2 linked regions of the Homo sapiens genome follow. The protein of the gene in region 1 purifies or fractionates together with the protein of each later gene. This does not show direct contact. Each region holds a gene or a part of one and is shown on either strand. Other genes may lie near its edges.

What was found.
Region 2: the proteins of RBKS (region 1) and NSF purify together in Homo sapiens (affinity purification with mass spectrometry; 3 studies listed by BioGRID and IntAct, with this or other methods). This does not show direct contact.

The regions. Positions count from the first base shown.
Region 1 is NC_000002.12:27,887,362-27,895,198, reverse strand, and holds the start of RBKS (ribokinase), read left to right. Parts: upstream 1-4,811; 5' UTR 4,812-4,853; coding exon 4,854-4,942; exon of another isoform or gene 4,943-5,743; intron 5,744-6,443; exon of another isoform or gene 6,444-6,490; intron 6,491-7,837. Other genes in the region: BABAM2 (BRISC and BRCA1-A complex member 2), read right to left, coding at 515-642. UniProt on the Homo sapiens protein: Catalyzes the phosphorylation of ribose at O-5 in a reaction requiring ATP and magnesium. The resulting D-ribose-5-phosphate can then be used either for sythesis of nucleotides, histidine, and tryptophan, or as a component of the pentose phosphate pathway.
Region 2 is NC_000017.11:46,635,669-46,642,694, forward strand, and holds part of NSF (vesicle-fusing ATPase), read left to right. Parts: intron 1-1,707; coding exon 1,708-1,874; intron 1,875-4,385; coding exon 4,386-4,493; intron 4,494-4,974; coding exon 4,975-5,050; intron 5,051-7,026.

The DNA.
Region 1 (7,837 bases):
GTAGCTTTTTGGTAAATCTAAATTTGTTTCAGGAAAAAAAAAATCTGTTTTTTAATGCAACATTTCTAGGTGTGAGATCTTGCTGTTTCAACCCCATTGTGAGAAATGACCCATTTTGGCTAGCTATTATAATATTCACATTAAGAGAGTTTACCAAATGGTATCAGATTCAGAATATGTTTGTTGCTGGACTGCAGCAAACACAATAAGAAAACAAGCCAATGAATGAAAAACACACTTTTAAAACTCTGACGGCATGCTCTTCACAAAGAAAAAACAGAAAAAAAGACATGAACATTCTAGTCATAAAACAATGGTCCACAACACAAATAAAATAACCTGAAACATAAAATGTCAAGAACTGAACAAAACCAACTGAATCAACATATGATGAGATGATGACTTGGTGGGTTTCTGTGGCAGTCAATTTTTATGAGTCTGGTAAGGAAGGGCTGTCATTAGGTAAAGGTTGAATTGGTTCTGGTACATTGACTGAATTCATTCTGGTACATACCCAGATTTTAAGTCAGTTATCCTCAAACAGTTTGTAGCATCCAGTCCCACTTTTCCATTCCGGACCACGCTAGATATGAAAGGGGAGAGCATTGGAGATATTCGGTTCAAGGCCACTTCTGGGGACATTTTAACTTGACTTGTAAATCACCACTGAAAGCAGAAGGAAAGAATAATGATCAGGGCTTACAAATGGACTAGATACAACACTCTGCCTGAAAACTGGACAGCATACAGCAGTTCCTCTTGCATGAATAAATAATTCATTTCCCATCTCTAGCGCAGCCTCTTCCAATGATCCTCCAGAAGAAACCACCTCACTGCTGCTCAGCTACTCAGGACTGGGACTACATCACTGCTTTTCAGGAACAGAAGGAACTCCTGAAATACAATTCCCTTTTCCTTCCCAAAGCTGATTTCTACACTGCCACACTCTACTCAAAGTGGTCCCACTCTATCTCACTCGTTCTACCTTAGCTGAGTCCAAGGAGCCCTCGCTAACAATCCTCTATCCCAACACAAAAACACACACATCACTGAGTTAGCAATCTCTCCCTGTGTGTCCCCACAAGGAGTAAAAACTTGATGGATAATACCGTATAAAACTCTACAACAGGCTGACCTGCTTGAAGCTATTACTTACTAGAAATTATTTACTGCTGATATATCTTTCTTTTTTTTTCTTTTTTTTTTGCGACAGAGTCTCACTCTGTTGCCAGGCTGGAGTGCAGTGGCGCAATCTCGGCTCACTGCAAACTCCACCTCCCGGGTTCAAGTGATTCTCCTGCCTCAGCCTTCCGAGTAGCTGGGACTACAGGCACATGCCACCACGCCCAGCTAATTTTTGTATTTTTAGTAGAGACGGGGTTTCATCAGGTTGGCCAGGATGGTCTCAATCTCTTGACGTCATGATCCACCCACCATGGCCTCCCAAAGTGCTGGGATTACAGGCGTGAGCCACCGCACCCGGCCTACTGCTGATACACCTTTCTTAATACCTTTCCGTCCACAGTGTAGTATAACTACCTGCTTACGTGATCTCTTCCCTGCAGGGTCTATGTTTTGAATCCCCAGGGTTTAACAGAAATACCTGGCACATGCTAAACACTCAATAAACATTTTTTAATAAATAAATGAGTAAGGGGACAAAAGTTAGAGAAATATTTCAGTATGGAGAGAAGATAATGTGCCCCCTCCCCAGAATTTGGTAGGGGAATAGATATAACAAGATCCAAGGAAGAGATATAACAAAAATCTACTTGACAATTAAATTATGAAAACATACATCTATGCAGCTATCAAGCAACACAGACTAACATGGATCTTAAGGTATTTGACTTTAAGGCACTAAGTCCTTACACTTAAAACCACAAAAGTAGAACCAATACATCATATCTAAATTATCTGGAAACTCATAGGGCTGGGGGAGGGAGTACACGAATTCTTCTTAATAGATTTCTAAATGAAAGCCTCTTCCTTCAGAGGAAAAAGTCGATTCAAATGATCGTTTCCTTCCTCAATTTTAAAGAATAATGCCACATCAAAAGAAAATTAATTTCCAGCAAGTTACCAGTAAATGATGCTCTGGTTCTAGTTTTCATACATTATACCACATGAAAACTTACAAGTCCTTGCTAAAATAAATGTTGAAAATTAAAACCTGTTTCAGTTTATTATTTCAGATAGTAAGTAATAAATTTATTTGCTAATTTGATAGCTCAAAAAATAAGAACACTTTGACCCTATATAGTGATGACAACCAGAAGTATCTTCGAGATTAACACCTTTATATTCATACTTCAGTTCTAAAATCATCCTTTTTGTAAATATAAAACAAGCTCTTCTTCTGACCGCTTAACAGATGACCGCCCCCCGACTAGTCTCTCATTTCAAAGTAAGACTAAACATCTAACACTGTACTACCAATCATAAAAATCATGTACTTTTTTAAACATTTTATCACTTACAAGGAGCGTCCATATATATTACTGCAGTTGATCTTCACAAGCCTGAGGTAGTAAGGAATTTTAATTCCCAGTTTGCAGATAATATGGGTAATTATTATAATTTGATTCTGAACAGTATACTAATCCACATCATAATTTTGAAGCCTATTTTTTTCTATTCGCCAACATTTCCACCTTCATGTCTATGTCACAATTCTTGAAGGGATGCTTATCAAAGTCATATGCTAAGTACAAATATACCTATCTTATAAAAAAGCAAAAGGGTCTCACCTATATTACCGAATTGTTCTTCTGTGTTTTTCCCCACAGTACCCATTATTACTTTATCTCTTGCTTCTACAAAAGAAGGAAACAGAACCAACACATTCTAGACACCTATCTACCCATTATCAGGCATTATATTACTCATCTCTATCTGTAATTTCATTTACATTTCCCCAACTCTGTTCCCTGAGAACAATAATTGTTCCCATTTGACAAGTGGAAGCTAAAGAAACTTGACAAATAGAAAATTAAAGCTCAGCAAAATAAAATAACTTGTTGAATGTTGGAAGCTGGAGGATCAGAATCCAAATCCGGATTCTCCAAGTCCACTATACCCATCTTTCTCTCAAATAAACATTGATAACTTCTATCACCAAAGAGAAAAGCATCAAGGTGATTTTGTAAAGCGTATATCTTATAAAATGTGAACAGACAAAAAGTAAAAATTTAAACAAATGATTGCTTTACCACTAAAAACAAACTGGACTATTGCTGACCTACTGCTGAACCTGGTCTGAGTGATTCACTAGTCAAATGTTAAAGGGAACAGCCTTGCTCTAGAAGCCAAACCATACTAAGTGACAACAATACATTCTAATTCAGCAACGGTCGTGACTTTAGGATGACACCTGAGGGAATGAATTCTATTTCCAGGGCAGCCATAATACTATGTTTTAACAGTGCAAGGTTTCACGCAGTATTAAAATCTATTTCAACCATGAGGAGGTGTGACTTCTCTAAAAAAAAAGGGCGGGGGGTGGGGAGTGGAACACAATGACTCCAAAATCAGAAGTCACTTAGCCAAAAACACTGGTCCTTTGGTGCAGTGAACCGGGTACATGGACAGGGAGTCACCACCGGTAGTAACTCTTACGCATGGCAGCACTATAATACACCCCAGATATACAAATATTTACGGTGGTCAGAGTCCCCTGAATACTACTACTGCAATTTGTATTTCCTGATTTTGACGTATTGCAAAAGGAAAATGCAAAATTACAATTTTTGCAAGGGTCTGCTACCCCAAAATAAAGTTACAAAAGGTCCTTTGATGAGAGGCCTGGGGATTACAAAGACGTCTAAAGCACCATCCAGGTTCTTGCAATTAAAATGAGATGACAAACACGGAAACATGTGCCCTGCTGACGTCATGGAACGGAAAGGGGTGGCATCCTGCTGCGTCACGTCGACGTCATACAGCGCACGAGGGAAGTTACACTGGGGAAGCAATTTCCCCCAAGGGGCAACATTCGAGAAAAACAAGTTAGCTCAGACCCGAAGAATGACCACCCCACTCTAGGGGACGTCTTAAAAAGGGACACTCTCCCCTCTTCCAAACTGTATGATTCCCCTCATCAGGCAACAAGGAACTAATACTCGGGGTTTACAGGAACCAGGGGATGGGCCAGATATGGAGAAAGAGACGCCTCTGGCCTTGGGGGCTCGTTCTTGAGGGAATCAGCGTGATGGGGATGAGAAGGGCATCTTTGGAACGGGGGCCTTCTCCATAGGAAGAGGAGGCGAGTCCCCTGGCCATATTTAAACCACAGTTCTCCACGCCACCTGTGCGACTCGGGATCCAACCTCCCCGCACCAGCCCCAGTCCAGGTACCTGGAACTTAGTCCGATCGGTAACCGGCGACTACGTGGGGTACAGGTACCCGAGCGCGCCCCCGACAGACGCACCGACCTGCGCGCGCGCCGCGGGCAGGATGCGTGCGCACTCCCCGGACGTCCCGCCCCGCCCCCTCTGCGGCCCCGAAGCTGGGCGGCGTGCGCGCCCCCGCGCCGCGCCGAGCCGGGCGCTCGGAAAGGCGTCCCCGCGGTGCCTGACAGTTCCTTCCTCAGCGCCTGCCCCGTGAGTGACGAGGAGCGCGGAGTCTCGCCATATCAGGAGGGCCCTGTTACGTGAGGCTGTGCACCGAGACTATTCCAGGAAGAAGAGGGGACACTTGGTGGGCGGGGTGATTTCGGGCAGTCAGGTGGGCGACCCGCGTAGGCGTCTGAAAGGCCCGCGTCGTTAGGGAGGGCAGGAGTGGCGTCTCTGGTTACGGGGTCGGGCAAAGGGCAGAGGTCACCGTCCAGGTTGGACAGCAGCACCTTTGAGCGATGGCGGCGTCTGGGGAACCCCAGAGGCAGTGGCAAGAGGAGGTGGCGGCGGTGGTAGTGGTGGGCTCCTGCATGACCGACCTGGTCAGGTTAGTCCGGGGCCAGTTACTCAGTCTGCGGCTCGGGGGAGGAGGCGTGCCGTGCGCTATGCGCCCAGTGGAGCTTTTGGGCGCTGGGTCTCCAGGGATAGACAGTGCTAGCTTTGGGTATGAGCTGCAGGTTTTCGAAGCCTTCAGCCTACCTTCCTGGCATGAAAGAACTTGAGTATATAAAGGTAAATCTCAGGGGAGGGGACGTAATAGGCCAGGGTTTAGTGAAAGCTCTAATATTACTCAAAGCGCTCCCCAAAGACCTGCCCTCCAAAGACTTGCGCCCCCAAAGACCTTTCTTGGCCCGGCTGCTGAGCCTTTCCCCAAACGAGCCAGGGAACTTTGCCCACGTCATTTTACCTCCGAGAATGTGCCTACCTCACAGGGTTGTTGTGAGGACTAAATGAAGTAAAGTGTTTTGTCAAGCGTAACATTATCCAAATTGGGTATTATTCGTCTGAGCTTATTGTATAAAATAATGAGTTGAGCAGAAATCAAAAAGACTGTCACCTTTCACCATGTTGATTGTCGGCATTACTGCAGTATTTTATATTTACAGCGTATTTTTCAGCAAGCCAAGTATGAATCAAAATAAAAACATAAACACAGTATTTACAACCTCTGAAAACGATGATCAAATTATGATAGAAAATATGCCAAATGAAAATTGTTGAGTTAGGTCAGTAAGATTGAGTAGACAGATCCTTCTGATTTTTCTTTTTTTTAAATTAAGGTAGCTTTTCTGATTACAAAAGTAATGTATGTTCACTGTAAAATTAGTAATAAATTCAGATATTCCAAGAAAATCCTACCACTCCAATTACTGCAGTTCAGTCTTTTGATGAATATCTTTTCAGTTGTAATGCTACTTTGTGTTATAAAAATGATCAGGTATGCTACAGTAACACCTCATTCGTCCTGAAATGTTGCTTTTCCAAAGGGTAATAGAGAACGTGGAACTAAACAAAAAGGCTTTGGGACAATCAAAATAAGTCACCAAATTGCTGCACCAAACCACCTGTATTCTACTCAGAAAATAGGTCTAGGGTCTTCATGTAACCAATTTAACCTTACCTTAAAATATTTATAAGCTGTGTTACCAAATTTCCACTGAGATTAGAAAGGTGGGAGTTAGAGAAGAGACTGCTAGAGGCAGTTATAGTGACTGACGAAAACTTGAGGATGAGTAGGAGACTGTGTAACGAGAAGAAGCAACAAAAGAATTTTAAATACCAATGACCTTTATTTTTCCACAAATATTAGAACTATTCTGTCAGACACTGTGCCAAGATAAAAATACTTTCCTTTGGTGACAGAGCATAAAATTGAATCTAGTTGGAGACATTTGTTGAAGAGGCCTGTACATCTTTTTCTAGAGCAAGAGTAAGTAAACTTTTCTGTAAAGGGCCAGATAGTAAATATTTTAGGCTTTGCAAGCCGTATGTGGTCAAGGTCACATTTTTTTTTAACAACATTTTTTAAATGTAAAAACCATTCTTACCTCCCAAGCCTTACAAGAACATCCTGCAGGCCATAGTTTGCAGACATCTGTGTAGAAAGAACATTACTGTGTTTACAACACAATATAGCAATTGATTTTACTGGTGATGACTCTTTTCAAGAAAAGGTTATATGGTACTTACTAAATTTTGTATAAAAATAGAGCATGTATTTCACTTTAGAAAAAGTTTCATCAAAAATTCATAAAGTTGAGTTACATAAAGGAATAAACCTTCATCTAAAATGATTCATTCCATGGGAAATCCACCAAGCTAAATGTTTACCATGATTTTATGTGTGAAGTGGCAGAAGAGTAAGAAAACTAAAGTGGACCGGGCGCAGTGGCTCATACCTGTAATCCCAGCACTTTGGGAGGCCAAGGTGGGCAGATCACCTGAGTGAGGAGTTTCAGACCAGCCCAGCGAACATGGTGAAACCCCATCTCTACTAAAAATACAAAAATTAGCTGGGCATGGTAGCTGGCGCCTGTGATTCCAGCTACTCAGGAGGCTGAGGCAGGAGAATTGCTTGAACCTGGGAGGTGGAGGTAGCAGTGAGCTGAGATCGCGCCATTGCACTCCAGCTTGGGTGACAAGAGCAAAACTCCATCTCAAAAAAAAAAAGAAAAGAAAAGAAAATTTTCTCATACATCCTACCTGAATAAAAGTGTCAGGGTTAAAATTCAGAGCTACTTCCTTGTTACCAAACTGAGAGCTTTCTGTGAAGCTTGACCATCAGATACTAAAAATAACTATAGTACTTTGTGGGGTGGGGTAGGGGAGTGGTGTCAAAGGCCCATTTTAGCATCCGTCAGGGTTTTAAAGTCTTATTTCAGAGCTAGAAAAATTTGGAAATTATTTATTCTAGTCCTTCAGTTTTTAGATAAATAAACTGAAGCCCAGAGAAGAATTTCTCCTCTTGGCCATATTCTTTCCTTCATAAAATATCCAAGTTTCTTCTCTTCACATGAATCAGTAAAAATTTTACTGATGATTAGCAAAATCACTAGTAAAAATTTTACTGATGATTAGCAAAATCACTAGTAAAAATTTTACTGATGATTAGCAAAATCATTAGTAAAATCATCAGTAAAAAATCATTAGTAAAAACTGTATTCCCATATAGACTCTCTCTGCTAATTCCCACAGCTTTTCAACAAACTTTTCATGATCTCTCGTTACTTATGACACTGAAGATCTTTACAAAAATCTGCGTATAGGATTTTCATTTAAAACCCTGCATCTGTGATAAACTTGGGTGCAACTTTTCTAGTTACAGTTAGTATCATGATTATATTAGTTATCTACTGCTGCTGTAACAAATTACCAAATTTAATAATTAACGCAAGTTTATTTTTTTACTGTTCTGGAGGTCAGAAGTCTGATACAGGTCTCA
Region 2 (7,026 bases), on another chromosome or scaffold:
GATGACTCAGCTCAGTGGAGGTTGCTTACGAGAGCTGCTACTGTATCCTTAAGGGGCCATTGGTAAATTTTAGGACAAGTATCTTCAGGGAACCTAAAGGGAAAATAAATGTGTGTGTGTGTGTGTGTGTGTGTGTGTGTGTGTGTGTGTGCTCGTGTGTGAAGCCTTATTGAAGAGTAGCAATAGACTCTTTCTTACTAGGCGTAATCAAGTTGCCCTCCTGGGGAAACTCAAATGCAAAAATCCTCTTGAACTTTTCTGGGTAGCCTACTCTACTCTTTCCTAATAGTACCACTACAGTATACAGCACTGTAAAATTTTTTGCTTTAAAAGTTTGTTTATAAACTGGCATTTATAAGTATACTTTTTGAGCTGATTTAAGAATCAAGTTTTTTTTTCTAGGGAAATGCTTCTTTGTAATTATCTGTCACTAGCAAAATTTGTTTTAACATATATTTTTCTAAAAATATGATATGTAAACTGTGTTGTAGTTGTACAATTAAAGGTTTTTGGTCGAACAGTTATTACATGATGTAAAATCATGTGTAACACTTTAATATTAATTACATTGTAACCTAAAATTCATTTTAAAACTTTTTATGTGGCTTGAACAGGAATTTTCTTATCCAAAGCTTTGTATGTATGCTTTATTGCCTCCTTTGTTATTAGCATGGAGACCATGGGTTTTCTGTTATTGTTGTTTCATTTAAACAGTTCATGAATATATTAAGCACCTGAAAGAAACTGTTAGATGCTGTTAATAGGAAGAGGAGTTAAAAACCTCGTCCTTGCCCTTATCTACATGTGTACATGTAGAACTTACTGTAGTTCCCTAGATGTAGCAGGTGCTCAGGAAACATTTTTGTAGTAGTAAAAAAGAAATGTCAAACTCTAACTTGCTCTGGAGCAAATTCCGCTAGTAAACATTGTTTTTCAAGCTTCTTTTTTTTGCCTTGCGTCCTACTTTCTTAGGCCAAAATAATTCATCCACATCCCACCTTAGCTGTTTTTTTGTGTCAAACAAAAATCTTATTTGGAAATAGCATGTTATGCCAACTGTGTTGGGGCATCCCATACTGTATTGCATTAAATGAGGAGAAAGATGCAGAGGCCATGTGGGGAGGATTGTGATCCTGATAAGAGTGGGATGAGGGATAACAACAGAGAGACTGCCGTTCAATATTTCTTTCTTTCTTTTTTTTTGAGACGGAGTCTGGCTCTGTTGCCCTAGGCTGGAGTGCAGTGGCGTGATCTTGGCTCACTGCAAGCTCCGCCTGCCAGGTTCACGCCATTCTCCTGCCTCAGCCTCCCAAGAAGCTGGGACTACAGGCGCCCGCCACCACGCCCGGCTAATTTTTTGTATTTTTAGTAGAGACGGGGTTTCACTGTGTTAGCCAGGATGGTCTCAATCTCCTGACCTCGTGATCCGCCCGCCTCGGCCTCCCAGCGTGCTGGGATTACAGGAGTGAGCCACCGCGCCCGGCCTGCCATTCAGTATTTCTAATTAATTCAGATGGGGAAGAAAATCTCTAGTGACTATTATTTTTTAAACCTGTACCTGTGTGTCCCTCCAGTGAAGGCCATTTAAACCCCATTTTTGGTGAAGTAGTTTATGATTCATTTATGTGAAACTTTTAGTTACTAGAAACACTACAGGTATTTTGTACTCCTGTGATTTTTAAAAAAATGCTTCTTTTTTTCCCCTAGTCTCCTTATATACATTTGACAAAGCCAAACAGTGTATTGGCACAATGACCATCGAGATTGATTTCCTGCAGAAAAAAAGCATTGACTCCAACCCTTATGACACCGACAAGATGGCAGCAGAATTTATTCAGCAATTCAACAACCAGGCCTTCTCAGTGGGACAACAGGTAGTTTTTAATTTTCTTTCATTCCTTTAACTTTATAGGTATTCTAATTTCTGCAGTTTTCCAAAATTAATTCCACCTTTTAAAAAGTGAGAGGGGCTTTGCGTATCAACTCGTATATCCAAGGTGAGTGATAAAAGTGAGGGAGATGTATTTACTGAACTTCAAGGAGTCTGTTCAGAAAAATTCTAAAGTAGCTTTTAGATTAAAATGTCATGTATAATTATAGCAGCTTTTCCCTCAGCAAATTTGGGAACCCTGTGGACATATATATCTGAAATTCCTTTTTATATCATAGGACATTTGTTTTGCCTCTGGAATGTCTGTCTCTTTCACTAATATAGTTCTGTAGAAAATGTAGCTCTTGGCCAGACATGGTGGCTCATGCCTGTAATCCCAACACTTTGGGAGACTGAGTTGGGAGGATCGTTTGAGCCCAGGAGCTCAAGATCAGCTTGGGCAACAAAGTGAGACCCTGTCTCTACAAAAATTTTTTTAAAAGTAGCTGCGTGTAGTGGTCTCAACTACTCAAGAGGCTGAGGTGGGAGGACGGCTTGAGCCTGGGAGGTTGAGGCTGCAGTGAGCCATGATTGTGCCACGGCACTCCAGCCTGGGTGACAGATCGAGATTGTCTCAAAAAAAAAAAAAAAGTTCTTATTTTGGTTATGGGCTTATTTGAGAATCTTAAAAAACTGAATTCCTGCTAGATAGGAAAAGGATATAGTACATTATTTTAAAAAGAGTACTAGAATTGGAATGAACCTCAAGAGATTACCTTATGTAACTCCACATATACAAATGAGGAATTTTATTTTTTTATTTTTTAAAATTTTATTTATTTATTCATTTATTTTTTGAGATGGTGTGTTACCCTGTCATCCAGGCTGGAGTGCAGCGGCACCATCTCAGCTCACTGCAACCTCCGCTTTCTGGGTTCAAGTGATTTTCCTGCCTCTGCCTCCCGAGTAACTGGGATAACAGGCATGCGCCACCACACCCGACTAATTTTGTACTTTTAGTAGAGATGGGGTTTCACCATGTTAATCAGGCTAGTCTCGAACTCATGAGCTCAGGTGATCCATCCGCCTTGACCTCCCAAAGTGCTGAGATTACAGGCATGAGCCACCATGCCCAACCATTTTTTTTTTGTATTTTTAGTAGAGATGGGGTTTTGCCATGTTGGCCAGGCTGGTCCTGACCTCAAGTGATCCTCCCACCTCGGCCTCCCAAAGTGCTGGGATTACAGGTGTGAGCCATCACGCCTGGCCAAATGAGGAATTTAAGATCTAAAGAAGGTAAATGGTATGCCCATGGCTACACAGCTAAGGGACATAGTTGAGATAAGAATTAATTAAACACATATTTGATAGTACCTAGTGCCTAGTACCAGTCACTGTTTTAGACACTGCAGATCGGCAGTGAACAAAATAGATATGATCCCTGCTGTCATAGAACTTACTTTCTAGTTGAAGAAAACAGAAAATAAGACAGGAATACCATGTACAGTTAGGTCTCTGATGAAAGTAGATCAGGACAATTCACCAGAGAGCTATTGCGGTGCTGTTGTGTATTGGATGACCAAAATTGTGCTCAGATTGCCTAGCTAAACTTGATGGTTTTTACCTTTGCTTTTAGTTTTAGTATCCTAATAGAAAATGTTTAGGAGAATGTTTAATAGAAAATGCTTTGGTATTTATAATAATTTAAAACTCAGTAGCATGTAGAAGTCAGTAAATCCATGAAAGAGAATCTTTCGTAATTCAGAGAAGAAGTAAATATCTTACTCCAGATCACTGTCCTTAACTGTTTCTTCTCATTTGTGGTATCTCGTAGTAGCAGAATGGACAGACAGCCCAACCTGTAATATTTACCATTATACCCCAGCACATAGAAGAAGACCAAACTTTTAGAAGGGACTCAGCAAAGATTTGGTGAATGAGTAATTGAGCATTCAGAAGCTGTCTCTGCACTTGTAGGGCAAGCATTTTGTACTAGTGATAGAAAAGCAGGAATTGTAGAGTCACAGACCCAGGGTTGACTTCTGGCGCTCTCATTTACTGTGACTTTGAGCCTTGTTGCATAGCCTGTTTCTGCATCTCAGCTTCCTCACTAGTAAAATGGAGTCGTAGTTTCTGCTTCCAAGAGTGTTTGTGAATATTATATAACTGGCTGTAGTGTTTGAATAAAATACTAAGAAACTTTATTCTTTGTTAGAAATAGTAAATGTGGTACTCTTGAATTACTTTAGGTGGCACTCTGACATTTAAATTAGATATTTTTTATCCATGTGGAAGAAATTTTAAACATGAGTTTTGCAGTCATTTTGTAAACACTGATCGTAAGTGCTAATTCCCTTTTCTTCATTGGCTGTGAGTAGTTTGTTTGAGGAGCAGATTGGAGAGGAGTATATAAGATAAACTGGTTTTCTGCATTTGAAAAACATTGGTGATGATCTGAGGATCAAACTATTATATTATGAAGTGATTTTTCTCCCCTTACCTCTTTTCTACATAGCTTGTCTTTAGCTTCAATGAAAAGCTTTTTGGCTTACTGGTGAAGGACATTGAAGCCATGGATCCTAGCATCCTGAAGGGAGAGCCTGCGACAGGGAAAAGGCAGAAGGTAGCTTTTATTTCTGATCATCTTTACTAGATCATCTTTATAATGTAATTTGTGCAGATTGATTATAATTTTCCTATCTGTTGCTTAGTGATTTTTTTCATATTGTGTACCCTTTTAAGATAGTAGGGAGAAAAAATTGCTTTCATAGCCATCATTGTTATTAAAATATAGCTTAAAATGTATTTATTTGCAGACCTAATATTAATGTAAAATGTAGACGTATATGTACATATAATTTGCTTGAATGCAGATATTTATTGTAAATAAATAATAAGAAACGCATTATTGGAAAGATATAGGCATGGAAATAAGGCATGTAAGAATTGTAGAAGAAAGTTATGAGAAAAGTAAAAGTAGCTCAGATGATAGTCTGGAAGGTTTGCTTTGCCCAGAGAGACCTCATTTCCCCCTCACTTTTGGCCTTGCTTTGAGAAGTCCAGAAGTTTGCTATTAGACTACTAATTATTGTCTTTCTCTACAGATTGAAGTAGGACTGGTTGTTGGAAACAGTCAAGTTGCATTTGAAAAAGCAGAAAATTCGTCACTTAATCTTATTGGTAAGATTTACAGTTTTTAGAAGATTTGAAATGAAGTGGGCCTATTTCTATATGTAACTCAACTACAGTGATTTCCAAATGGGGAAAGGAAAGAGGGGCATCTCTCTTGAGAGAGTTTATCACAGAAGCATGGGGTATTTCCTGTTGGTCAGTTTGCTGATGAAAACGTTTAAAACCTTCATCTGGATCAACTTTGTCCAATAGAAATAGAGTGTGAGCCACATGTGTAATTTTTAATTTCCTAGAAATTGCACTAAAATAAGAAACAAATTAATTTTTTAACTTTTAATTTTGAGATAATTTTAGGTTCACAGATTTGCAGAAATAGCTCAGAGAATTTCTGTATGCCCTTTACCAGCTTACCCTGATGTTAATGTCTTATTTGACATTTTCAAAAGTACAATGATAAGAAATGAACATGGTTTCATTTCTGCTAACTAAACTACAGATTTTATTGAGATTTCACCAGTTTTTCCATTGTGTCCTTTTCTGTTCCAAGATCTAATTTAGGATCCCATATTGCATTTAGTTGTTCTGTCTTTTGAGTTTTCTTCAGTCACTGACAGTTCCTCAGACTTTGTCTTTTATGACTTTGAGAACTGGTCAGTTATTTTGTAGAATGCCCCTCACTTGGTTTTGTGTTAAATGAGATAGCATCATCATTTCTTTTAGTGATTAAGTGATGAATGTGCAGGTCAAGTCTTCCCAGCAGATTCATGGTTCAGTCCTACTCTTGTACTCTAGCACAATTTTTGTCATATTAAAACAATTGCAGCTTATTCTCTGAGAATAGTAACTCACCAGAATAATGTGACATTAACTGGGCATTAATTCTTATTTTTGGTTGATTTAACTATGTTGATGTCTACCCTACTAGAGAGTAGAGGGTTTTCATTGGTTGCACATCATCATGTCCAGGGTCACTTAACAGTCTTTGAGTGCGTGGCCTTTATTTCCTGGTCCACAAATTACCATTCCCCCTTATTGTTTTTTGTTAATTATAAAATATTTTATTTATAAAATATGGATAGGCATTCGAAAACAATTCACACACTGTAAAATTTGGTTCTGTTTTCATAGTTTTGTAATTTGCTTTTTTTGCTTAGCATGTTTCAAACATCTTAAATATACACCTATAACATGATTTTTAATGCCTGTATGTCATTTTATGAAGGTAGGATGTATTTTCCTGTTATTGATCTAGTACATTTATGAAGTGACTTCTTTGTATTTTATTTTTGTGTACCTTTTGTTAAGATATCCCAAGGGAGTTGCATAACTTTCATAGGTATTTCTAAGTAATCCATGGGAAAAAAATTGTGTAGTTAATTGGCATTCAGTAAATTTTGCCCACAAGAGGGCAGTAGAGTGTAAGAAAAAAATATTTTTCATCGCTTTCCAAAGGAAATCTTAAGGCCTCAAAACTCTAACCATAAAATTATCATCTAGTATAAACTTTTAAAAAGCGTTACTTTATTTTTAATTGACAGATAATAATTGTATATATTTATAGGGTACAATTTGATATTTTAATACATGTATACATTGTAGAATGATCAAATCAGCCTAATTAACATATCACCTCAAATATTTAGCATTTCTTAGGATAAACTTTTTTTAATGTGACATTTTCTTCCCTGGTTTTATAAAAACCATATTATTACTTTATTTTTTGTTTATAATAGAGCATACTAAGGTACTTAATTTATTCTTTGTTTGAAATAGTAAATGTGGTTCTCTTGAGTTACTTTAGGTGGCACTCTGACATTTAAGTTAGATAATTTTTGTCCTCTTGAGAATTTTTAAACATGAGTTTTGTAATCATTGAAGTCTTTAGGATGATTTCAGACTTTTGTGTCCAAGTGAAGAGAAAGCAAAGAAGACATCAAACTTGTTCAGTATATTTCCTTAGGCTGAGGGGTTATATGCCCAATTACCTGTATAAGCTTAATCTGGATAAATATATGTATTTTAAA